7 linked regions of the Homo sapiens genome follow. The protein of the gene in region 2 purifies or fractionates together with the protein of the main gene of each other region. This does not show direct contact. Each region holds a gene or a part of one and is shown on either strand. Other genes may lie near its edges. The genes, in order: LZIC, OSBPL11, FTO, SEC23IP, PDCD4, C12orf57 and FAM114A1.

What was found.
Region 1: the proteins of OSBPL11 (region 2) and LZIC purify together in Homo sapiens (co-immunoprecipitation; one large-scale study listed by IntAct). This does not show direct contact.
Region 3: the proteins of OSBPL11 (region 2) and FTO purify together in Homo sapiens (co-immunoprecipitation; one large-scale study listed by IntAct). This does not show direct contact.
Region 4: the proteins of OSBPL11 (region 2) and SEC23IP purify together in Homo sapiens (co-immunoprecipitation; one large-scale study listed by IntAct). This does not show direct contact.
Region 5: the proteins of OSBPL11 (region 2) and PDCD4 purify together in Homo sapiens (co-immunoprecipitation; one large-scale study listed by IntAct). This does not show direct contact.
Region 6: the proteins of OSBPL11 (region 2) and C12orf57 purify together in Homo sapiens (co-immunoprecipitation; one large-scale study listed by IntAct). This does not show direct contact.
Region 7: the proteins of OSBPL11 (region 2) and FAM114A1 purify together in Homo sapiens (co-immunoprecipitation; one large-scale study listed by IntAct). This does not show direct contact.

The regions. Positions count from the first base shown.
Region 1 is NC_000001.11:9,936,892-9,940,391, forward strand, and holds part of LZIC (protein LZIC), read right to left. Parts: intron 1-3,500.
Region 2 is NC_000003.12:125,592,698-125,596,711, forward strand, and holds the start of OSBPL11 (oxysterol-binding protein-related protein 11), read right to left. Parts: upstream 2,801-4,014; 5' UTR 2,104-2,800; coding exon 1,940-2,103; intron 1-1,939. UniProt on the Homo sapiens protein: Plays a role in regulating ADIPOQ and FABP4 levels in differentiating adipocytes and is also involved in regulation of adipocyte triglyceride storage. Weakly binds 25-hydroxycholesterol. Interacts with OSBPL9 to function as lipid transfer proteins.
Region 3 is NC_000016.10:54,113,156-54,116,655, reverse strand, and holds part of FTO (alpha-ketoglutarate-dependent dioxygenase FTO), read right to left. Parts: 3' UTR 1-3,500.
Region 4 is NC_000010.11:119,899,230-119,902,729, reverse strand, and holds part of SEC23IP (SEC23-interacting protein), read right to left. Parts: intron 1-3,500. UniProt on the Homo sapiens protein: Plays a role in the organization of endoplasmic reticulum exit sites. Specifically binds to phosphatidylinositol 3-phosphate (PI(3)P), phosphatidylinositol 4-phosphate (PI(4)P) and phosphatidylinositol 5-phosphate (PI(5)P).
Region 5 is NC_000010.11:110,870,717-110,874,727, reverse strand, and holds the start of PDCD4 (programmed cell death protein 4), read right to left. Parts: upstream 2,801-4,011; 5' UTR 2,710-2,800; intron 1-2,709. UniProt on the Homo sapiens protein: Inhibits translation initiation and cap-dependent translation. May excert its function by hindering the interaction between EIF4A1 and EIF4G. Inhibits the helicase activity of EIF4A. Modulates the activation of JUN kinase.
Region 6 is NC_000012.12:6,942,774-6,946,502, reverse strand, and holds C12orf57 (protein C10), read right to left. Parts: upstream 2,482-3,729; 5' UTR 2,382-2,481; coding exon 2,330-2,381; intron 2,124-2,329; exon of another isoform or gene 2,028-2,123; coding exon 1,851-2,027; intron 733-1,850; coding exon 581-732; 3' UTR 501-580; downstream 1-500. UniProt on the Homo sapiens protein: In brain, may be required for corpus callosum development.
Region 7 is NC_000004.12:38,930,306-38,933,805, reverse strand, and holds part of FAM114A1 (protein NOXP20), read right to left. Parts: intron 2,356-3,500; coding exon 2,194-2,355; intron 1,572-2,193; coding exon 1,432-1,571; intron 1-1,431. UniProt on the Homo sapiens protein: May play a role in neuronal cell development.

The sequences.
Region 1 (3,500 bases), on a different chromosome or scaffold from region 2:
GAGGCCGAGGCGGGTGGATCACAAGGTCAGGAGATCAAGACCATCCTGGCTAACATGGTGAAACCCCATCTCTACTAAAAATACAAAAAAGGCCGGATGTGGTGGCTCACGCCTGTAACCCCAGCACTTTTGGAAGCCGAGGTGGGTGGATCACCTGAGGTCAGGAGTTCAAGACCAGCCTGAGCAACATGGGGGAAACCCCATCTCTAAAGAGAAAAAAAGGCCAGGCACGGTGCTCACGCCTGTAATCCCAGCACTTTGGGAGGCTGAGGTGGGCGGATCATGAAGTCAGGAGATTGAGACCATCCCGGCTAACACGGTGAAACCCCGTCTCTCCTAAAAATATAAAAAATTAGGCAGGCGTGGTGGCAGGCGCCTGTAGTCCCAGCTACTTGGGAGGCTGAGGCAGGAGAATGGTGTGAACGCGGGAGGCAGAGCTTGCAGTGAGCCGAGATCACGCCACTGCACTCCTGCCTGGGCGACAGAGCAAGACTCAGGCTCAAAAAAAAAAAAAGAAAAAAAAATTACCTGTAGTCCCAGCTATTTGGGAGGCTGAGGCAGCAGGCTTGCTTGAACCTGGGAGGCAGAGGTTGCAGTGAGCTGAGATCACGCCACTGCACTCCAGCTTGGGCAACAGAGTGAGACTACATTTCAGAAAAAAAAAAAGGCAGCTGGGTGCAGTGGCTCACGCATGTCTGTAATCTCAACACTTTGGGAGCCTGAGGTGGGAGGATTGCTTGAGCCCAGGAGTTCGAGACCAGCCTGGCCAATATAGTGAGACTTCATCTCTACAAAGAATAGACAATCTTAGCTAGGCATGGTGGCGGATGCCTCTAGTCCCACCTACTCAGGAGGCTTAGGTGAGAGGACTGCTTGAGCCCAGGAATTTGAGGTTGCAGTGAGCCATGATCTTGCCACTCCACTCTGGCCTGGTTGACAGAGCGAGACCCTGACTCAAAAAAAAAAAAAAAAAAAAAAAAGCTACAGGTATATGAAAGATAGTTAAACAAAGAAAATCTTAATTTAGATATAAAAGTTTAAACTCATATAGTAATAACACCCCACAAAAATACCTGAAAGTCCTCTTTATGTGACTTGACATATTAATTAGAAGTCTTCATTATTGGTCTATCTTACTCTAAACAAATTTGGTAAATGGAAATATATATATATATGTAGATCAAATGTGACTTTGCTTTATAAAATGAATCATTATAGCCCCAAACACTCCAGATATTATCTTATTGGTCTTATGTATATTGACCTAATTACTTGTGAGCATGAACTTTTTTTTGAGATAGGGTCTCACTCTGTTGCCTAGGCTGAAGCACAGTGGCACAATCATAGCTCACTATAGCCTCAACCTCTCGAGCTCAAGCCATCTTCCCACCTCTGCCTCCTGAGTAGCTGCAAACACAGGCACACACCACCACACCTGGCTAATTTATTTTTTTGTAGAGATGGGGTCTCCCATGTTGCCCAAGCTGGTCTTGAACTGGGCTCAAGAGATCCTCCCACCTCAGCCTCCCAAAATGCTGGGATTATAGGTGTAAGCCCACAAGCCCAGCTGATGAACATCTTTTAATATGAATTTCTTCTTTGGAAATGTGACCATCTTTCTGCTGGGTTATCTTTCTCTTACTGATTTATAACATGGATACAAAGCCTTTGGCTTTTTTGAGACAGGGTCTTGCTCTGTCACCCAGGCTGGAGTGCAGTGGCATGATCATGGCTCATGCAGCTTTGACCTCCTAAGATCAAGCAATGAAGCCTTTGTAATTGCAAATATTATTTCGTCTCCTGACTAAATTTTATGTTTTTTTGTCATGGCAAATTATTATTTTTTAATAGACAAATCTATCTTCTCCTTTAAATCTTCTTCGTTTTGTGACCCATGAAGGCAGGCCCTAACCATCTCAAGATTTATACATCTTTATATTCAAGACTTTTACAAATTTTTGTTTTCTAGCTGCAGACAAAAGCCACCTGCAACATTTTTTGTTATGCTTTGAAGTAGGGGTCTAACTTTCCTTTCAAAAACACCCTTTACTAATCAGTCTTTTATTTATTGATCCAGGAGAATTTGGTCTACAATAAAGGTGGCATATTGATTAATAAATAAAAGACTGACTAGTAAAGGGTATTAGGGCAATTGGCTAGTCATTGATAATTTTCTGTTCCTAAGGAATCACTTCTTTTTTTTTTAGACTGAGTCTTGCTCTGTCGCCCCGACTGGAGTGCGGTGGCACGATTTCGGCTCACTGCAACCTCCACCTCCTGGGTTTCAGCAATTCTCCTGCCTCAGCCTCTTGAGTGCGTGCCACCACGTCCGGCTAATTTTTGTATTTTTAGTAGAAATGTGGTTTTGCCATATTGGCCAGGTCGGTCTTGAACTCCTGACCTCAAATGATCCACTCACCCCAGCCTCCCAAAGTGCTAGGATTACAGGCATGAGGCACCCCACTTGGCTTTTTTTTTTTTCTTTTTTTTTTGACACAGAGTATCGCTCTGTCACCCAGGCTGGAGTGCAGTAGGCTGGAGTGCAGTGATGTGATCTCAGCTCACTGCAACCTCCACATCCTGGGCTCAAGTGATTCTCCTGCCTCAGCCTCCTGAGTAGCTAGGATTACAGGTGTGCCACCACATCTGCCTTTTTTTTTTTTTTTTTTTTTGGTATTTTTAGTAGAGACAGTGTTTCGCCATGTTGGCCTTGGCCTCCTAAAATGCTGGGATTACAGGCATGAGCCACTGTGTCCAGCCCTCAGGCAACATTTCTTGCTATTTACATTATTATGGCTTTATCACTGATATATCTCGATAACTGATAATGACTTGCCTTTATTGTTTTCTCCTCCCCAAAATTCTTGGCTCTTCTTGTGCACTTTCTCTTCCAGATGAATTTAACAATCAGTATGTCAAGTTTCATTAAATATCCTATTGACTGGGGCCAGGCATGGTGTCTCACACCTGTAATCCCAGCACTTTAGGAGGCTAAGGCAGGCAGATCACTTGAGACCAGGAGTTACAGACCAGCCTGGCCGACACGGCGAAACCCCGTCTCTACAATAAATTAAAATATTAGCTGGGCATGGTGGTGTGTGCTTGTAGTCCCAGCTACTTGGCGGGCTGAGGTGGGAGAATCATCCAAGCCTTGGAGGCAGAGGTTGCAGTGAGCTGAGATTGTGACACTGCACTCCAGCCTGGGAGACAGAGTGAGACTCCTACTCAAAAAAAAACAAAAAACAAAAAACAAACCACAAAACTTTCCAGGTAACTTATTAAAACATGTTTTTTGTTTGTTTTGAGACAGAGTCTTGCTCTGTCGCCCAGGCTGGAGTGCAGTGGAGCAATCTCAGCTCACTGCAAGCTCCGCCTCCCGGGTTCACACCATTCTCCTGCCTCAGCCTCCCGAGTAGCTAGGACTATAGGCACCCGCCACCACGCCCAGCTTATTTTTTTTGTATTTTTTAGTAGAGACGGGGTTTCATCGTGTTAGCCAG
Region 2 (4,014 bases):
AAAATATTTTTAAAGGAATATTGGTATTTAATGTTGACATTTTAATAAGAGATATCAAGCATATTAAAAAGAAAAATATTAAGACCTAACAGGAAATGTATAAAAAACACATATGTAGATGTTTCACAAAAGAAAAAAAAATGATCATAAAGAAAAATGAACTAAAAATGCATCAGAAACCTAAACATAAGCACTAAAACAAAACTCCTAGACAAACACATAAGTGTAAATCTTTGTCATCTTAAACTTCACAATGTTTTTTTAGATGTGACACAAAACTATAACAAGAGAAGAAAAAACTCATTAGACTTCATGAAAATTAAAAACCATTGTGCTGCAAACAATATCATCAAGAAAGTTGTAAACCAAAAATAACATTCGAAGGCACCTCACAACCAACTTAATAGACTCCCGGCTCTCTCCAGACCCAAATGTGAATGCCAGGGCCGCGGCGGCGCCCCACCCACAGCCCCATAGCAGGTCAGGACGAAGCGCCACGGACAGGGGACCCGCGGCCCCTGCCACAGGTCACACACATACAAAAAAATCATGCTGATTCCAAAAGCGGGCCTAGACCTCTCAAACTAACTGAATATATCTTCTTATCCTACAGTCACTTACCAATAAAAAGTTATCTTCTGGCCAGGCGCGGTGGCTCAAGCCTGTAATCCCGGCACTTTGGGAAGCAGAGGAGGGCTGATCACTTGAGGTCAGGAGTTCGAGACCAGCCTGGCCAACATGGTGAAACCCCATCTCTACTAAAAATACAAAAATTAGCCAGGTGTGGTGGCGCACGCCTGTAATCCCAGCTACTCGGGAGGCTGAGACACGAGAATCGCTTGAACCCAGGAGGTGGAGGTGGTAGTGAGCCGAGATCGCGCCACCACACTCCAGCCTGGGTGACAGAGCCAGACTCTGCCTCAAAAAAAAAAAAAAAATTATAATCTTCTATACTTCACTTCTATATGTTAATATAGTCATGCATATTTCATACATATGAATATTATTCATGATAAATGTATATCCCTCACAAAATCTTGGCTTTAATCCCTTCCAAGTTTCACAAAAATTTCACAAGCACAAATAAGCACAAAGGCTAAAAAGGACTACAGTTAGGCACATAGGAGTCAATCAAAACTTAAGAATTCATCCCTTTAGTTCCAATACGATGGGATGTGCTGGTTTGTTTCATTCATTCTTAAGGTTCTGGATAGTTCTTTCTCCCTACACTTCATATATGAAAAAACAAAAACAAAACTTGTTGCCTCTCCAGGACTCTCCTCCTGTTCCTTAAGTTGTTCATTCATATTAGTGAAAATTAACAAATATAGACTTTCTCATCAACACAGAGAGCATTGAAGTGGCCTGAGCAACGCAAACTGAACATCTCCAGGCTCAGGTTTAGTTTATCAGAGGCATTAGGATCTCTACCTTTGTCCTTGCATTCCAATTACTTATGTACATTCCCCTTTCCAAGTCACAAATACCTTCAGGGCAAGAATCTTTTCTGATTCTGGAGAAGCTCTGGACAAGTAAGTTTTGAGCACCAGTATTTGCTACCCTCTCGAGAAAGCTGAGTTAAACAGTTCCTGCCCTCGCAGTCTATCAGAGAAAGCTGGCTTGTAAATAAATTGCAACATAGGCAAAAGCAGAAGTGAGTACAGAATTAAATCTGAGGAAGCATTAACTCTCTGACTGTAGAGGAAGTTCAGGGATACATTTCTGTGTTCCTCAAAAGGCCTTCCATAAATACCTGTTGAATGAACAAATGAATGGATTAAATCTTTTAGGCGAGGTCCCAGATCCAAACGAGATGTATCAGTAGCTTCTGGAAGCCAGTGAAAAAACTTTTATCTTTCAACAATTGCGGGATGCAGCCTCCAGGGCATATTCACCCCTACCTCCACCTCGGGAAATAATTTTGGAGAAAGGAGCATACCTGTACTGCCAGCCTTTTGCACTGCCACCGCGGCTGCTGCTGCTGCTACTGATTCCACCTCCACAGCTGCTGTTCTTGTTCGGGGTCACCGCTGTGGCCTGGCCCTCCAGCTTTCCTTCGCTCTCCGAGACTTTCATTGTGGACACTGGTTCACCCCCCTGCATCTTAACGCCAAAGTCCACTTGCCCTTCTTGAGCGGGAGAGAACAATTCTGTAGTTCTGTAGGTGACTTTTTTTTTTTAAGATTTGATCTGAATATGATACCGGTTGCTAAATCACACGGCGGCTGGGGCGGGACTGTCAAATGGTCCAGAAAAGGAAGATACACATTCCCACAGAAGTTAAACTTTTGAGAGGGCAGGGGAAGCAACGAGGACAGATATCCTTCACATGTATCTCTCTCCTTTCCGGCAAAAGCAAGGAGGAAAAAGCATCCGGCGAGAAGACTTAAGTGACATACTCAAAAGAGAAGGAGTGTGGGGAGGTCGCAGATTCTGTAGCCAAGACGGCTGGGAAAAGGACGGAGCGCCACGGACAGGGGACCCGCGGCCTAACCTCGGGGCTGACCCGCCGCGCTCCCTCGTCTCCTCCGCAGGTCCTCAGGCAGTGCGTCCAGTCAAGCCCGCTCGGCAGTTCCCGCCGCAGCCCCCGAGATACAGCCAGGGCCGGCGCGCGCAGCCGGGGAGGAGGGTCGGGGAATGAGGCCGCCGGGGGCGGGACGCCGGCTCCCGGGGCCGCCTCTCCCAGGGCCAGAGGCGAGCCACTCGGGACAACTTCCTCTTATGCCCCTGGCCCGGGCCCTCGACTGGGTTCCCAGGAGCCGGTGAGTCTCTCGCGCTATCTCCAGACCCAAGCGCGAATGCCAGGGCCGCGGCCGCCGCCCCACCCACAGCCCCACAGCCCCACAGCCCCACAGCGGGTCAGCCACCCCCCGCCCCCTGCTCCCTTCCCGCCTTCCCTTCCGGAGTAGCGTGAGCTCACTTCCCTCACAGCCGAAGCGTCTGGCGCCATCTTGGGTCAGGGCGGCGGGTCCCTGAAGGAGGCGGAGGCTCTGGGAGCTGGTAGCTGGGCGACTGGCTGATGGGCGAGGGAGGGCGAGGGAGGGCGCCGCAACGGAACGAGGAACCCGGACAGTGAAGGAGGAAGAAACAAAGGAGCCAGCAGCACTAGAGAGTTCCCTTCTGGTGTGTGAGTGCCCGCCTTCCTTTTTTTTTTTTTTTTTTTTGAGACGGAGTCTCGCTCTGTCGCCCAGGCTGGAGTGCAGTGGCGCGATCTCGGCTCACTGCAAGCTCCGCCTCCCGGATTCACGCCATTCTCCTGCCTCAGCCTCCCAAGTAGCTGGGACTACAGGCACCCGCCACTACGCCCGGCTAGTTTTTTGTATTTTTAGTAGAGACGGGGTTTCACCGTTTTAGCCGGGATGGTCTCGATCTCCTGACCTCGTGATCCGCCCGCCTCGGCCTCCCAAAGTGCTGGGATTACAGGCGTGAGCCACCGCGCCCGGCCGAGTGCCCGCCTTCCTAACCACGTCCTAGCCTTCCATTTGAGGGGCCGTTCCAGGCATTTTAGGAAGAAAGCTTACAAAAATAAGAAAGTACAAGAACGAAGCAAACATCTGTACGTTTTAGTTACTTGGGGTGGGGGGGGGGCAAGCATGACATTGGAGTAAAGCCAATCATTATTATAAATTAAAAAGAAGCTGTCATGGAAATTAGAGATCTCAGAACAGAGCTAGGTACTCTTCCAGACCCCAGACAAATCTTTCACCTTGTTTAGGCCTTGGTTTTGGATTTGTAAAACAAGAGTGCATGGGTAGATTTCTAAAGTCTCTCCTAATTGCTAATTTTAGTTTATAATAACATGACTTGAGGCTGGGCACAGTGGCTCACGCCTGTAATCCCAGCACTTTGGGAGGCCGAGGTGGGCGGATCACTTGAGGTCAGGAGTTCGAGACCAGCCTGGCCAACATGGTGAAACCCATTCTCAACTAAAAATACAAAAATTAACCGGGCATGGTGGTGCGTGCCCGTAATCCCAGCTACTTAAGAGGCTGAGACAGAAGAATCACTTGAGCC
Region 3 (3,500 bases), on a different chromosome or scaffold from region 2:
AGGAAGTCATTCTTAGCCGGCTTCCCCTCCTCCCACCCATCCTCTGCAAGCTGCCCGGCTTTCCCTACAGCCGCAATCATCACAACACGCCTGTGCCGTCTCTCCCCTTTATGGTTGTCAAATTGATTTCACCACCGCGATACCTATGGCTCCCAATGAAACTTAATTAAAAATACCATTTAATCACAGAGTAACAAAGGCAAACGGGATAAACGGCATTACCACTTCGGCGCATTTTAATCCACACCGCTCCTCTCCATCTGAATCTGTCTGGATGAGAATTGCCTTTTCAAACCAGAATCCCCTTGTCTTCCATGTGCTTGCCTCTGACAGATCTCCAAAATAAACAGTTTTTAGCGTGGCATGGATCCAAATGTATGCAATTTGCCCAGTGGTAAAATCAGCCCTAACTAGAGCAAGAAAAAAAAAAAAGAAGTTGCATTTGAAAATACCTTCCTTCCCTCGAAGCATACAAAAAACCGTCTACTGAATGTGGGATCCGTTAAACGGGTCCTATGGACTCTCAATTCTGGCATCCCTGGATTCAGTGGAGTGATGGGTTTTGAAGCTTATTACTAAAATTGTGTCACCAATGATGCCATGACCCTGCTCTTTTATGTCTAGAAAGCTCTGTGGGGCTGGAGCCTGCCAGTGAGGGCGTCAGGAATGGATCTGCTGGGGTGTGGAGGGGAGGGGCTGTTTAGAGTGAACTCTGTAGGCAGGCAATCTAGAGGGGCCGCAGGCCATCTTGAGATCTCACCCAGCCAGGGGGACATTCCCAGTTGGAAAGCCGCTCCTTTGGATTAAGCTGTTTGCTCTCTCAGAGACCCTCTGGAATCCAGATAGAGCGATGATCTAATGCATAAAAATATCTCACCAAGTTACTTCCATGCCCTTGCTGCTTGAAACCCTCTCATGCTTCCTGGGGTGTGTGGAATAAAACCCGAGCGGCTCCCGTCTGCTCTGCCCTACATCTCCCCTTCTCCCCTCCTGGTCTTCTCGGCTTCAGGCTCAGGGCCCTTTTCCTTCCTTGGGCACCCCCTCCCAAGGCTCTCCTGCCTGGGCCCGCCGTCCCCTTTCCTGGGAAGCTCTTCCCAACCACCTCCCTTCCCCACAGCCTGATCAAGGTCCCCTTGGTCAGTCACCATCTCCTCTTGTCCCTCTCCCAGTTGGTTCCCTTCCTGGCACTTACAACCATCTGGAACACTCTTGTTATTGATTTGCTGCTTACTGTCTATTTCCCCACTATGGGGTAAGTTCCTATTTTGGTGACTACATATCCCAGGGCATCCACTAGCCTGGGAGGCAGAGATCTGTCTTGGGTCCCCAGGCTTGCCTCATTGCTGAGGCTGTGGTCAGCACCAAGAAACATTCATGGGAGGAAGGGAGGGAGGTAGGGCAGTCAGTAGCACCTCATTGCAAAGGGATCTCTTAGATCACTTTTCTCAAGAGACCTGGGACCACAGGGAGGACTGGCAGGAAAGCAGGAGGGGGCTGCTGCTGATGGAAGTGGTCCCTTATCCGCACACATGGGGAGAAGGGTGCGATTTCTGGGCCTGTGCTTCCAGGAAAGTCCTTCTCCAATTCACAGCAGAAGCAAGCCTTCCTTTGACCCTGCAGGATACGAGTTCATTGTCATTGCCCGCACCAGCTGCTTTTTTATTGGGTCTTGCCCACCTCCTTCTACCCACCTGAAACCTCCCTGGAGAGCACATGAAATCCTCAAACACATGATCAATGAAAGTCACCATTTCTTTCTTCTCTCGCTCCGTGGCCCAGGCTGGAGTGCAGTGGCATGATCTCGGCTCACTGCAACCTCCGCCTCCCGGGCCAAGCGATTTGCCTGCCTCAGCCTCCCGAGTAGCTGGGATTACAGGCACACACCACCACACCCAGCTAATTTTTGTGTTTTCAGTAGAGACGGGGTTTCACCGTGTTGGCCAGGCTGGTCTCGAACTCCTGACCTCCAGTGATCTGCTGCCTCAGCCTCCCAAAGTGCTGGGATCACCATTTCTTTAGAGCAAATGTGATCTCACCTTTCGGATTCACTTAAAGTAGTGATTTCTCCAACCCTGTTGCACATTCCCTGACTCCACCTGGAGGACTTTGAGAACTAATTCCACCTGGGCCCCACCCAGGACAGTGAAGCTGGCTCATCCATGCAAAAGGAAAAAAACAGCAAAATCTCTCGGTTTCTTATCTCATCCTTTTAATATGTTTATTGGATATGAATATTTTATGATGCAAATGACATTAGTACAAGCAGTCTACGAATAGAGTTCAATAGTCACACACATATATTGGGGTAAGCACAAAATATTTCGACTAGAGGGGTGCAAGCAAGCAGGTTTGGAGAGCACTGACATGAAAGGGTGATGCAGGTCAGGTTCACAATTAATGAAAAAACGGAGAAAAAGAGGGAGTATGGCAAACCATAGGCTGGGTCATGCCCCAACTCGCAGTGGGAAGATGCTTATTTAGCTTGCTGCCATGCGAGGATGGGGGCCTAGGACTATTGGGTGTTCTGAGTTCTAAAGAAAAATGCAGACCTTGGCTTGGCGCGGTGGCTCACGCCTGTAATCCCAGCGCTTTGGGAGACCGAGGTGGGTGGATCACGAGGTTGAGATCGAGACCATCCTGGCCAATGTGGTGAAACCCCATCTCTGCTAAAAATACAAAAATTAGCTGGGCGTGGTGGCACGTGCCTGTAGTCCCAGCTACTTGGGAGGCTGAGGCAGGAGAATTACTTGAACCTGGGAGGCAGAGGTTGCAGTGAGCTGAGATCGTGCCACTGCACTCTAGCCTGGTGACAGAGTGAGACTGTGTCTCAAAAAAAAAAAAAAAGAAAAGAAAAAAGAAAATGCAGACCTTTTAATTTTATGTGAAATCTCCCAATTTTTAAATATGGGCACCTAATGGGATATAACAAAAAATGAACATCATAGGGGCTAAAGAAAACACTGGGCTGGATGGCCCGAGGGTGCCCCATCTGTGACTTTTAAACACCACGCCCTCCTGGTCTATGTTATTTCATTTATTTCATTTAATCTCTGTAATGACCCTGTGAGACACTGCTTCACTTCTCTTTTACCAATGAGGAAACTGAGGCTCAAAGACACCAGGGAATGAATCCAAGGTCTGAGAGACTCGAGTCTCAACACGATGAGACCCTGGCTGCTTTGCTTAATGTGACATTTCTGTGGCTATTAACTGCATTCATGGGAATGAGTGCAGGCCGTGAACCACTGCAATTCTGGTGGCAGGAAAGAGTTTATTCTCAGTGCACCTTCAATAGGCAAAAGCTCTTCAACTTCTCAACTACTGTGAACAACTACACGAGAAAGCAACAGGCTGGGGAGACGGGGGGCTAACTATTCTCACGATTTCTTGGGACACCAATGGGCAGGAGCCAGGTCAGAAAGGGAGAGATGTGTTAATGGCATCACAAGACAAAACTGGCGGAGGGGTCAGCAAGAGAGAGGAAAACATCTACATCCAGG
Region 4 (3,500 bases), on a different chromosome or scaffold from region 2:
ACTGATGTTAGTAGATTATCCTACATGTATATCTGGACAATTACTTAGTGTAATAACTAGACCCCAAAGCAATTTTAAGAAGAATTTTTAAACCTAACAAAACCCCAAATCAAGGATAAATGCTTGAGGTGAGGGATATCTATACCCCATTTATCCTGATGTGATGATTACACATTGCATGCCTGTATCAAAATATCTCATGTAACCCATAAACATATATACCTACTATGTACCCACAAAAATTAAAAATTAAAAAATTTAGAAAAAAATCAATTACAAGGTGAACCAGACCTTCTCACAGAACACAAAGTAAACTAACACCTTTACAGAAATCAATCTAGCAATACATCTCCCATGATTTATTTAACCTTTTTTGTGTGTGTGAGGCGGAGTTTGCTCTTCTTGCCCAGCCTGGAGTGCAACGGCGCAATGCACAGCCTCCGTCTCCCGAGTTCAAGCGATTCTCCTGCCTCAGCCTCCCAAGTAGCTGGGATTACAGGCATGCGCCACCACACTCAGCTAATTTTGTATTTTTAGTAGAGACAGGGTTTCTCCAGGTTGGTCAGGCTGGTTGCGAACTCCCAACCTCAAGTGACCAGCCCGCCTTGACCTCTCAAAGTGTTGGGATTACAGGTGTGAGCCACCACACCCGGCCTATTTAACCTTTAAAATGTGCCTACTCCTTGACCTACTCATTCCATTTCTAAAAATTTATCCTAAAGATAGAATTATAAAAACAAATAGCCCAGGTGCAGTGGCTCACACCTGTAATCCTGCCACTTTGGGAGGCTGAGGTGGGTGGATCACCTAAGGTCAGGAGTTCGAGACAAGCCGGGCCAACATGGTGAAACCCTGTCTCCACTAAAAATACAAAAATTAGCTGGGCGTGGTGGCACAGGCCTGCAATCCCAGCTACTTGGGAGGCTGAGGCAGGAGAATCGCTTGAACCCGGGAGGCGGAGGTTGCAGTGAGCTGAGACTGCACCACTGCACTCCAGCCTGAGTGACAGAGACTCTGTCTCAAACAATAAATAAAAAATAAAAATAAAAAGTTATCCCCAAGGATATACATCAAAAGGTTATTTAAAATAGGAAATTGGTGTGTACAACTGTCAAAACTCAGCTAATTGTACACTTTAAATAAATCGAATTGTATACTGTAAATGGATGCCTTTTACTGTATGTAAATTATACCTCAATAATGTTGATTATAAAATCATAGCTAATAAATTTGGAATGTTTGCAAAAAAATAAATAAAATAGGAAATCACTGGAAATAATCAAAATGTCTAACAGAAACCTGATTAAATAATATTTAACTCAAATGCTAGATCCTCCAGCGCCATTAAAAATGTCTTATATCCTTTCTGCAGGAGATAGCTAAAAAAAAAAATAAGTAAATAAACAAAAATAAAAGTTTTAGAGGATAGACACGATGGTTCACACCTATAATCCCAGAACTTTGGGAGGCCAAGGAAGGAGGATCATTTGAGGCCAGGAGTTTGAGCCCAACATGAGCAACACAGCAATACCGTTTCTACAAAAAAATCTAAAAATCACACGGACATGGTGGGGCACACTTGTAGTCCCAGCTACTCCTGAGGCTGAAGTGTAGTTCAAGGTTGCAGTGAGCTGTAATCACACCACTGCACTCCACCCTGGATGACAGAGCAAGACCCCCCCCCCACTCTTTAAAAAAAAAAAAAAGAAGAAGAAAAAGAAAAAAATTTTAATGTTTTAGAAAAAATCTTAGTAACATTTAAAGTATGTTCACACAAAAAAAAAATAGATTATAGAAACCATAGGTATTATATGTTTGCCAAAAAAAGACATATAACAAAATGAAAACAGTGGTTATCTATGGACATTTTTTATTAAATTGAGTATTCTGCATTTTTCAAATTTTCTACAAAAACGATTTTAAAATCAGACTAGACTTATTTTAAAATTTTTTAATTAGACACCATTTTGGGACAGGTGTGGTGGCTCACACCTGTAATCCCAGCACTTTGGTAGGCTGAGGCAGGAAGATCACTTGAGGCCCAGGAGTTTGAGACTGCAGGTGAGCTGTGATTGCGCCACTGCATTCCAACCTGGACAACAGAGTGAGACCCAGTCTCAAAAAAATATATAATTTAGCCCATAATCCCAGAACTTTGGGAGGTCAAGGCAGGAGGACTGCTTGAGCCCAGGAGTTTGTGACCAGCCTGGGCAACATAGTGAGACCTCATTTCTACAAAACATAAAAAAAAAATTAGCCAGGTATGGCAGCATGTGCCTGTGGTCCCAGCTACTGGTGAGGCTGAGGTAGGGGGATCACTTGAACCTGAGAATTCGAGGCTACAGTGAGCCGTTACCATGCCACTGCACTCTAGCCTGAGTGACAGAGCAAGACCTGGCCTCAAAAAAAAAAATTTTATATATATATATATACACACACACACACACATACACACACACGTACATATACATACACATATATAATTTCTAAAAAATCATTTTGAAGTATTACATCAACACTCAATTTCCTGAGATTCATAGCTGCACTGTGCACATAAGAAGAATGTCCTTATGCTTAGCAAATGTACACCAGGAATTTAGGAGTAAAGAATCATAATGTATTTTACTGACCTTCAAATATTCCCCCCAAAATTGCATATATACAGAAAGAGAAAAAAACGATGAGGGGAAGGGAGGGAAGAGGGAGGGGCAGGAGGAGAAGCAGGAGGAAGGGGCAGGAGAAAGGGATGGGGGAAGAGGGAGGGCTCACATATGCCAGGGTGTGCACATGCACAAATTAAAAAACAAACGGGATGAAATGTTAATGATAAGTAAACCTGAGTAAAGGATATTAGAGTGCTCTTTGTACTCTTTTTATTTTTGCAACTTTTCTTCAAGTTTGAAATTATCATTTTTTAAACTTTTATCTAAAAACCTTTTTAAAAATTTAAGCAACAAACTACAATTAGTTTGTTATAGTTAGCAAAAATACTAACTATATACCACATGCTATGAATCTGGTTACTTTTCAGAATGCCGAAATCCAACATTGTCAAAAATTTGTGTATTGGTATGATTTAAATGAAATGATAAAACAGAGTCCATTCTCTATCTCTAACAGAGAAGTTAGTTACATTCTGATCACAATACTGCTATCTCCACCACACTGAAATGGGTTCTTAATTCTTTTTAATCATTTCTCTTTTTGTTTAATTCTGTTGATTTTTCTTTGGAAATCAAATAAACAATTAGTTGGGAAAAATGCATAAGGGAATTTCATGAAATTTACCCAATGCATACGTTATTCCACCAACTCTCCCTAGATAGAGTTTGACTGATCTAGATCCAAACTCCATAAAGAAATTACTGAAGTAATCAATTTTAGTCCCTGTAATTGAGTGTTTTGATTGACTAGTGTAATTGAAAGATGAGAAACTAGCAGTCTGTTAAGACAATAACCGCTTCAATTCTCCTATGTCTCTAGACAACACTTATTTTTAC
Region 5 (4,011 bases), on a different chromosome or scaffold from region 2:
AACAAAAACAAATGGACCTTATGTTAAAATTATAGGCTTCTTACTATGGTATAATCCTCAGACTAATATGCTATCATATTGCTTGGGAACTTAAGAAAATGGTGAGATCATTCTCTAATTCTGTTAAGAATAAATTAATATATGTGAATCTTTATAATCACTTTTCACTATAACTCCCGCCAACTTTAGATATGAAAAAAAAATCTTAAAAATATGTAGAGATTCATATAAATATATGAACAAAAATGGTTTGCAAATCTAAACACTCAGCATCCTTCATGGCTGAAAAGGCTACATTCTGTTTTAATTCCATGCATGAAATACATATAGGAAAGGAATAATGTCATATGATACGTGTTTCAGTTTTTTAGAGTTCCATTACAAAGTCTTTTTCATTCTTGATGAAAGTATAACTTTTGAGAGAATACTTTCTGCAGAACCTAATAAGCGAAATGATTATAATTGATGTTCATAAAGCCCTTTACAATTCAAAAAGAATTGTACATGTATTATTTAATGTACCTTACAGAAAAACCTTCGGGTAGGTATTCCACCTTACACACAACTAAACAGATTCAGAGAGGGTAGGTGATATGTCCAAGGACAGACAGCTGCTTAGTGGAACAGCCAGGATGAGAATCCAGACCTTCCAAATCCAGTACTGTTTGCACAAGTTCAATCCAAAATTTTAATATCCCACAGGAAGATTCTTTTCAAGGGTTAACAGAAGCTTCTTAAAACAGACTTCTGCTGTTCAAACTTTTAAATGCTGTTTTCCAAACACTAAAAATAATTATTTTAAACTATTATACAGAAGGCATTCCGTCAGACAAAACTGTCAGGAAATGACTATCATCTCTTTTATTAAGATAAAAACAAAGTTATCTTAATAAAAAAAATAGTCCTGTGTCTTTAGGCAATGATAACCCGATCAGGAACTCAAGTCATATTTGACAGCAACAAACACGTTTTAAGAGTTTAGATAAGACATGTTCCACGTTTTTACGCTCTTTAAAGTAGTAGGATTTTTTCCAATTTATTTAACAACCCTTAATTGGCCCAAACAAGAAAATATAAAGCAAAAAATCCAAACGCTATTTCCTTCATACTAACCTACAAAAATGAATTTTCGATGAGAAAACTATACATACAAGTTAGAAGAAAATGAAGGCTGACATTAAACACTGTTCTTTTCTCCAGTGTGTTACACGAAATATACAATCAGAAGTATTCAACTGCCAAGACATTCCCTAAGAGACAGACCCTCCACTCCCCCACGAAATATATACATATGTATTTCCTGAAATATACCTCATAAATTGCTCTGGCATTTTGGGGAGTCAAGCTTTGGCCATTTATTAACTAGGATTACTTGTATTCATTCTTCGGCTACGAACGGCTAATTAGCAGCTTAAAACCAGCTAAAAGCATTCTACTACAGTAATGCAAAAGCAAGCACTACAGATAATATTCAAGCGGCATTTATTTTTGCAGTCCTAATATTTTTTCCTTTCACATTAGTACCACAGAAAAAGCCAGTCAATTATAATTCAAATACACTTACTGAGATATTAACGTATTCAATAAGCCTATAATGAAGGAATATTAAGGGCATAAATACCAGTAACTCCTTGCTTAAAAAGCACTTGGTGGTTTCCCAAAAAAGTCACGTTAAGAATATCAAGATTGTAACAATTAAAGTAAAAATACAAGTTAAAAACAGGGGAAACCCTTTTTTCCCCGACACCTAATCGCATTTCTGATCGTTTTCATCATTTGTAGACACTACACAGTTGCTGGCTACGTAGCGAGTTCTCACAAGGGGGAGGGGGGCGAAATTGACGTCTGCAGACAGTTTTGAAGCTCTTGCAAAACCCCATGTACGTTACAGCATCAAACTGACAAATGGAGAAGATGGCATGCGTTTCACAGAAAGGGGGCTCCCTTCCCGGCTTTGTTTTCTCTGGGAGATTTTATTTTACCTAAACTAAAAAAAAGAGACCCTTTGCCGGAAGACGGGCGCGACGAAGTTCGCGCAGGGATGGGGCGGCGGGCACGTGTTCGCCTCCCAGCGCCCCCGGCGAGGATAGCGCGCGGCCCCTCCCCACAGCGGCCGGGCCTGTTCTCCCGCAGCGGGCTCAGGCTAGGACCCCCGAAGTCCCAGCCCGGGTCGGCCCCCGGAAGGGGCTGGGCCGGGGCCGAGGCCGGGGCTCCGGGTTCACGAAGGACAGGGGGCCGCATCTTCAGAGGATTCCCAGGGAGGGCAGGGGGCGGGGAGGGCGCGAATCTTCCTCACAGGATTTCAGTCCAGCCGGAAACACGCCTTCCAATCCCGGCCCCCGAATTCAACCTCCGCCAGAGGGGGAGGAGGGCTGAGGGGGACCTTCAAGGGCGAGCGCCTCGCGCGCCCCTCTCAGTGGGGAGATGGCTCCGGGAGGGGGCGGGCCCGCGCCGACACGCTCCAGGCTGGGCTCAGAAAGAGGGAACCAGGCCGGATGCCCGCAGTCCGGGGCGTTGGGGAGGGCGCGGCTGGACCTGCGGGGCTACAAGAAGGCAGCCGGACCCCCGCACCGCAGGCCCGGACCTGACAGGACCGCGACCCCCACGCCTCCGCCCCCGCCCCCTCCCATCTTGCGGCTGCCTCCGAGGAGGGATGGGGGAGAGGGCGCAGTCTTCCCGAGCGTGTGAGCCGCGCCTACTGGTACTGACCCCTCGGGCCCCCGCCGCTGCTCGCCCAGGTTCCTGGTCAGCCGGCCCCGACCCCGCTCTTCTGTCTCTGCCGCCGCCTCGGAGAGTCTCTGGCCCTTCTCGCTCTGTTTGTTTTTGTTTTCTTCTACCCAGTAACACGGGGGCGAGAGGGCGGCGCTTATTGGCCGAGGCCGGGTGGTCGGCTGGCCAATCGTGGCGGCGGAGCCGGAGCTGAGGAGGAAAAGGGAGAGGAGTGAAACGTGGAAAGTTGGGGAGGGGCGCGGGAGGGCGCATGCGCATGTGGCTCCTGGGACTGGCTGGAGCGGGAGTTGAGCGGGAAGTCGGGGTGGGGGTATGTTGGGAGGCGTGGCGGGATGGGAGCGTTGGGAAAAGGGCAGTGCTGGGGGATGGGGACGAGGATGAAGCTTCCTCGACCCAGCTCACCCATTCTCCTCACAGGGCGTTCTGCAAACTCGGCTGAAGCAAAGGTTTTGAGCTTCCTGATGGTCCCTGCCTCCATTTCTAGAAACTGCTTAGGCGAACACTCCAAGTGATCAGCCTGTCCGATTCCTCCTCCCTCTGGCCGCTGCTTTCTCTGTGGCTTCCAGTTTCTGGAGATCCCATGCTAAGAAGTTTCTCTCAGCGAATCCCCTCAAACCTTTGAGATGGAAATAATTCCCATTTCACAGATATAAAGCAGGCTCCAAAACTCTTTGAAGTTCCTTTGCTAATCATGACTAGCCAAGCCTCTGGCGTTCAAACGCACAAATTCCGGCCTCCAGTGCTGGGGTTCTCAGCCATGGCTACAATTTCTGTATTGAAACTTCCACCTCCCCTCGCTGTTCTCTGTGACTTTTCCTCTTGGCTGCATTGGTTTTGGCTGGTACTATCCTTACTCTTTCAAGGTCACGGTCCCCTGAGGGTGATAACCAGAACCTTAGGCTTCCTTTGTGTTCCCAGGCGGGGACTTAGCCACTGCCTCTGATCAGATTTTTCAGTTGTCTGATGGGCAGCACCGAATGATTGCTTGTGCTCTCCAGAACCCAACTGCCTCATCCCGCACAGGCCAGCGCTTTCCCTTGGCTGCCCAGTCACCCTGCCTGGGAATCATCTCTAATGCTACTATTTCTCTGCACACACACGCACACACACACACACAAACCTTCACTGGCTTCCCATTGCCTCTCTTGAGTGTCAGCGCCTCGGTCGGTCATTCAAGGCTCCGTGATGTGACTTCAAGACTTTCAGGCTGTGTCTCCACACATCTCCCCATATGCTTCCTCACCCCCTGGTAGTTCTTTATATATCACCTTGAAATGTCTC
Region 6 (3,729 bases), on a different chromosome or scaffold from region 2:
CCCACAGCGGCCAGCTTCCCTGCAGCCCCAAAGCGGGAGTACAGCAGGCCCGCCTGCTGGTCCAGGGCCGCCTTCCCCCGGGAGAGGAGGAGCCACCTGGAGCTCCACCTGGAGCTCAAGCTGACAGAGCGGCGGGGTATTGGGTAGGGGAACAGACCAGGAAGTAACCCTGGCTGAGGAAGAGCAACCAATGGGGGAAACCTCTCCGTAGGCGGAAACCAAAGGGCCTAAGGAAAATCCCTAACAGCCCAGTTCCTCAGAGAAGGAGGTACCCCCTGTGCAGGCCCACCCACCCAGGGCGCTGAGGGACCCACTCCAGCCTCTCAACCTGCCCCGGGGGAAGGGGAGGAGCCTCAGGTAGGGTTAGGCCCTGGGGCAGGGTTAGGCCCAGCCAGGACCATAGGGAGGAGCTGTTCAGGGGGATGGGGCCTGGAAAGGCAGAGGGAATCAGGGAAGGAGAGATGGGGGTTGTCAGGTCCGCAAGAGACTGACACCAAGGCTAAGTCACAGGCGCATTTATTATTGTCTGGAACATCAAGGCCTTTCCTCCCCTGGCAGTGGCACAAGGGAGGGCCAACTCTCAGGAGGCGGCCACGCTGCCACCAGCAGCAGGCCCATGGGGTGGCAGGGTCATGGGCGGCAGAAACAGCGCCTTCAGCTTGCCTGACAGGCTGGCGATCTCAGGATCCTGGGCTTCGTAGGACTTGACCAAGCGAGCAAACTTAAGGACACCTGCAAGAGGGAGTGGAAGGTCAACCCTTCTCCTAAGGACCAGCGTGCCTAAGACACCTGGAGGGGGTGGTAGTCTAAGCATGAACTGCTCCCCCACTGGCTGGGCAGCTGTTTGCCAAACAGGACGCATGCAGGCCTCTGTCCCGTGTGGTTTGGATGATGACATTTGGTCTACACTGGGCACAACTAGATGGGATGCAGTGAATGAAAATGTCCCAAGGCAGTGTGCTTCTTGCTCTCAGGTGAACCATTTTAGCAGTTTAGTCACTGGAACCCCAAGAATGAACACGAGACCCCAGGTCTGTAGCTGGAACTCAGGAAGGCTATGAGGCAGCAGAGCTGAATCAGTCAACACCTTTGGGGAACACCAGGATCTCACCAAAAATTTAACCACCAACCCCCCCCAAACAAAAATTAGCTGAAACACCCTGGAGAGACTGCAGCCACTGCTGTCATGCAGACATGTCACTAAAAGGTGGCACAACAGCATTTAAGTCCAGCTCTGCTACTCGAGAGTCTGCACCATTAGAGTTTGCTTCCTCATCACAAAATGGAATAATAATGTGATTAACAGTACAGGTTGACCATCCTTAATTAGAAAATCCAAAATCTGAAATTATGAGTGCCAGTGTGAGGCCGAAAATGGAAAATTCCACACCTGACTTCATAGTGGGGGGTGGGGGAGACTGTAGTCAAAACGCAGTCAAAACTTTGTCTCATGCACAAAATTATTCAGACTATTATATAAAATTACCCTCAGGCTATGTGCATAAGGTGCGTGTATATGAAACAAAACAATTTCGTGTTCAGATTTAGGTCCCATCCCCCAAGATATCCATGTATATGTAAATATTCCGAAATCTGAAAAAACCCGAAACACTTCCGGTCCCAACCATTTCGGGTAAGGGATACAGAACCTCTACTGTACAAAACGCAACTCGGACGCACAAGCTCAGGGTAGACCCTGGGCTCTGAGTGCCAAGAATGTTAGTCAGATTGTGGCTGCCGCCGTGTGGCGAGAAAGGGGACAACCGCTCATGGGCCCACAGATCCGGCGCCCTCTCCCGACCCAACTCCCGCCTTCCCGCGTCTGACCCGCCTTCCCGCGTCTGACCCACCTTCCCCGTCGCAGCTGAAGCCATAGGCTTTGATAACCTCCTGCTGGATCTGCGTGGCCACGGGCAGCACGAATTGCAGCATCTTACCCATGTCGTTGCAGGCGTTATCCCGAGCCTCGTCCATGCGCACTGCATTCTCCGGGGCGGAGAACGCCTGGATCACCTCCGCGAGGACCACTGCGCGCCAGAAGCATCCCAGGGAGGCGTCCCGGGTAGGCGTCGGAGAACAGACAGCGGGCCCAGCGGAGAGCGCAAGGAATTAGTGGATTGAGGCTGTAGGTAACCCAATAAGATCCCAAGTCTTGGGGGCAAGCGCCCCACTTAGAAGGACGGTACCCGGCGTCCCCTACCCCATTTTCCCGGCGGACGTAGCCAGGTTTGTCGCCCCACATCCTCCGCCCGCATCCTCCCCAGACCAGCAGCCCATGCCTTGACTACCCCAGGCCAGCAGCCTATGCCTTGACTAGGACGATTCTCACCCTTTGCTTGCTCAGCGCTCAAGGCCGCCGGTTGGGTCGAGGCGGACGCCATAGGGCGTCTGAAGCTCTAGGTTCAGCGGAGGTAAATGGAAAACTCACGAATAAAGAGCCACGTCCTACAACCGTTCCCAACGCCCCTGGGAGCGGAAAGGAAACAGCATCCGGCGCAGCCGGAAGCGCCCAGGCGTGGCCCAAACCTTCATACCCCAAGCTTACAACTGCATCAAGACCACCAAAACTACCCATAATTTTTGCACAGTGAAAACAATCTATCATTGGCAACAAACATCATAAGAGGGGCTTTCCGGTAAAAAGCCAGAAAGCCTACTAGACAAATTCTAAAAGAGCTGTAACACTGCTGCGTATGTGTTTGGAGAGAAGATGGGATATAAAGGAACTCCACAATTGATGAGGGTGAGCTTAGGTGACTTTTTTCTTGTTCCTATTACTGTATAAACAACGACGCATGTGGTAACTTTCAGTAGGAAAAATAATATTCTAAGGAACTTACTTAAGTCATTCATTTCTAGAGTTCGCGAACATTTGTTCTCAGCCCATGCAAATGAGTTCGGTGCTGATTGGTTGAGAAAGCAGCCAGTCACAGCCCCTTCGTTGTTGTTAAGCCCGGAGACCTGGATTCGGCAGTAAAGGCCCAGAGCAAAAGCCGTTGTCGCAGTTTCCTAAAGGCCTTGTCTATTGATGAGCGATGGAGCCTAATGCCCGGCCCGATTTCCCTTCCCTTCCAGGCTTTTATCACCCACTCCCTTCTCAAACTGTAGGTGGTTAAGGATGCCAGGTACTAATCGCCTGGACCTATTAAAACTAGCCCACCCCACCCCCGCTTCATAACCGGCTTTGTTTTTTGTTTTTGAGACGGAGTCTTGCTCTGTCGCCAAGCTGGAGTGCAGCTGGGGGGGATCTTGGCTCACCATAACCTCCACCTCCCGGGTTCAAGCGATTCTCCTGCCTCAACCTCCCAAGTCGCTGGGACGACAGGCGCGCGCCACCATGCCCAGCTAATGTTTTGTTTTTAGTAGAGACAGGGTTTTGCCATGTTGGCCAAGCTGGTCTGGAACTCCTGACCTCGTGATCCGCCCGCCTCGGCCTCCCAAAGTCCTGGGATTACCAGCGTGAGCCGTCGCGCCTGGCCTCATAACCGTTTCTTAAAGTATTCCACGGAAAGGTTTCAGGACTCTGAAGCCCTTGTTCCGGAGGACTCTGGTGGCTCCTAGCAGTGAGACCCGTCTGAATAGATTCCTAGAACTGACCACGTCAGAGGTGGGCCTGTCCCAGGCCTCTAGTGTTTGGTTGGTTGGGGTGTCTTTTGTTTGTTTGTTTTGAGATAGGGCCTTGCTCTGTCACCCAGGCTAGAGTGCAGTGGTGCGATCATGACTCACTGT
Region 7 (3,500 bases), on a different chromosome or scaffold from region 2:
CATCCCTGGATATTTTCAGGGGCTCTATTTTGGCTCCTGTGTCTGTCTAATAATACGAGGGTACTTAGGCCTATGTTAATTTTCCACATCACAGTATACAGTCATGTGCATAAAAGTTAAAGGCTTATTTTTCAGCTCCATACCAACTATTTTCATGAATGCTCCATATCAACTATTTTCATGTATATTCACTAGATTGCATATTCATATATGTTACACATATATTTTAATTTTACTTAATAAACTAATGATAATAGCTATTATTTATTGAAGAACATGATATAGGACAACACATACATGCACACATACAACCCACAGTGAACTGGTTAATATTAGTGACCGTCATCACTGGAGTTTGGAACGTGGAGACCTGGTATAAGTCCCCAGGAGCAGTGGAGTGTATTTGCCTATTTTGTGAATCTAGCTAGAAGTTACATTAAAGTGTCCTTTCTCTATTCATGTATATGTTGAAAATGTAATTACCCTCAAAAGGTTTTACTTCTAAGACTTTGATCTATTAAATAAGTACTTTCACGCCTCATGCAATGATTTAGTGTGTTTTCCCTTAAATCTCTTCATAAATAATTCCTAGAATGGCTAGTTAAGTCTTCTTCTTGCTAACATAATGCACTTGCTAAAGAAATCCTTATTTCTGGCTAGGCGTGGTGGCTCACGACTGTAATCCCAGCACTTTGGGAGGCCGAGGCAGGCAGATCACAAGGTCAAGAGATGGAGACCATCCTGGCCAACATGGTGAAAACCCGTCTCTACTAAAAATACAAAAATTAGCTGGATGTGGTGGTGCGCACCTGTAATCCCAGCTACTCGGGAGGCTGAGGCAGGAGAATCGCTTGAACCTGGGAGGCGGAGGTTGCAGTGAGTTGAGATCGTGACACTGTACTCCAACCTGGTGACAGAGCGAGACTCTGTCTCAAAAAAAAAAAAAAATCCTTATTTCTTAAGATGACCGTAGAACAATGGAATTGGTTGACTTGAAATTTGAATCTTTGGCCAGGTATGGTGGCTCATGCCTGTAATCGTAGCACTTTAGGAGGCTGAGGCAGGAGGACTGCTTGAGCTCAGGAGTTTGAGACCAGCCTGGGCAACGTGGCCAGGCCTGGTCTCTGCAATTAATTAAAAAATTAGCTGGATGTGGTGGCACGCACCTGTGGTCCCAACTCCAGGGGAGACTGAGGCAGGAGGGTCACGTGAGCCCAGGAGTTTGGGGCTGCAGTGAGTCATGATCATGCCATTGCACTCCAGTCTGGGTGACAGAGTGAGATCCCGTCTCAACAAAACAAAAAACAAAAACAAACAAAAAGAAACCTGAATCTTCTAGTGGCTTAGAGGGTGTGGGTGTGTATGTGTGTATCTGAATGGTACCTATATATAAAACTGGGAAAATAAGAATTTAAAGTAACATTTACTTACTTTATTAGAACTTTTGCTTGGTCCTGAGCTGGTTTTTCCTCTTCTTGTCCATGAAGAATTAATTCTGCTACTTTATGAAGCTGCTCAATACAGCGCGCTGTTACCTCCGCCAGACTTTCAATGGACGACATGTATACTTCCTGAAATGAATAGACACAAGCAAGAAATTTTTTACTGAGCAGATGCTTTTTTAAAAAAATGCTGTGACATTAGAAGTGATATAATTCTTTCAAAAATACCCCAAATATAACCCGAAATAGTTAACCTGATGATTACAAGCATATCTAAGACTTTAAGTGTAATGTTGCCAGGAAGGGCTGTAAAGCCCCCACGGATGTGGCAGGTCTGTTCACAGCTGCATCCCCAGTGCTTACAGCAATGCTGGGTACAAAACAGGCAGGTGCTAAAGAAGGTGTGTGGAAGGCCGGCTGAATGAACAGAGCTCAATGGATATTTTTCCTTACAGTGATCTAATCACTGCAACCTCCACCGCCCAGGTTTAAGCAATTCTCATACCTCAGCCTCCCAAGTAGCTGAGAGTACAGGCACACGCCACCACGCCCTGCTAATTATTATTATTATTATTTTGTATTTTTACTAGAGACAGGGTTTCACCATGTTGGCCAGGCTGGTCTCAAACTTATATTTCTATAACACGGAACAAATGAAAAAGAAATGGCCTCTCCTCAATTAAAATTAAGCTGCTAATAAAATGAACACACTCTTATTACCTTGTAGGCAGACAATCTAGAATGAATTTACCTCTATGGTCTTAGTTTTCTTTTCCTCCTTTTTGTCTTCTTGAGGGTCTTGAGATTTCTCTTCCTTTTCTTCCTTCTTTGTTTCTTCTTCGGACACTTTTGCCACATCTACTGACACCACGGTTTGATCCTCTTCCACCCAGTCATGAGCCCTCTTCATGGCCTGCAGAGGTCCCCAACCAAACAATCCTTTTATGGCGCAAATATGGAAACTAAGTCATTCCAACCCCAAGACTAGAATCAAGTGTCTCTAAGCCTTCAAGAATGGATCTCTGTATGTTTGGAGGATGACGGGGCAATTTTTCAACCCCCGAAAAAGATAACCTTGTTGTTGCTTTCTGGTAAATATAAAGTAGAAAAGAGGGACAGAACAGAAGGTATGGAAAGAACAATGCAAGCCTGAGGACTCTTCAAAAAGCATTTAAAAATGATATTCAGATAAGAATAAAAATGACAGTCACATTGAAAAATCTATGGTATATTTTTCACTTTTCATGACCATCTATAAAAGAATAATAGTATTTTTAAAAATATGTGTTAGAAATTGAGCCATGGGGCCGCGGCTACAGCAAATGTCCTCATCTGATATATTTCAGGAAGCTCTTCATGTTTCATGAACCTAACAATGTATCATGCTGGGAAGGTGAAGAAGGGCTCTGCGTTTCTTGATTCATGACAGGTCTTCCACCCTCAAGGGGGAGAAGAGAAGCGCTGCTGGAAAGGTCTGGTGCTGCTCTGTGTCTAGTTTAATTTCACATGAGTGCAGTTTACGCACTCTGTGCCCTGCAAAATCATGGCTAAATTAAACAATCAGAAACCTCCTCCCCTGCCTGTTATTCCCTGAATTTAGAACGAAGGGGCAGACTCACTCCAATTTTATCATTATAGTTTAAGCTGTTTGCTTAAGTAAAAGTTGTTTTGGGGCTTACACTAAACTTACTTCCCACGTTAAATCTTACACGCCAAAGTTAAAAATATCAGAGTGTTGAATGGTAAGTTAACAGCAAGAAGATCTGGGGAGAGAAAACCCAGCAAAACTGTCCTCAGTGTGTCCTCTATTACAGACAAAGATTTAACCCTAAGCAAATAAGCCAGTGGAATCTCAGAGCCACCACATGCCCCCTCTGAGCAGTGGCAGATGCTGCACGGAGATGAATGAGGCAACTTCCCACTGTGTTCAAGTCACTGACCTGCCAGAATCAGTGACCCCCATCAGAGATAAAGAAATTACTCATCTCACCTCCTCATTCTGCCCTTTTCCTCACCCACCTGGATAAGTGAGTACCTATGTAAACCACTGCTTGCTAA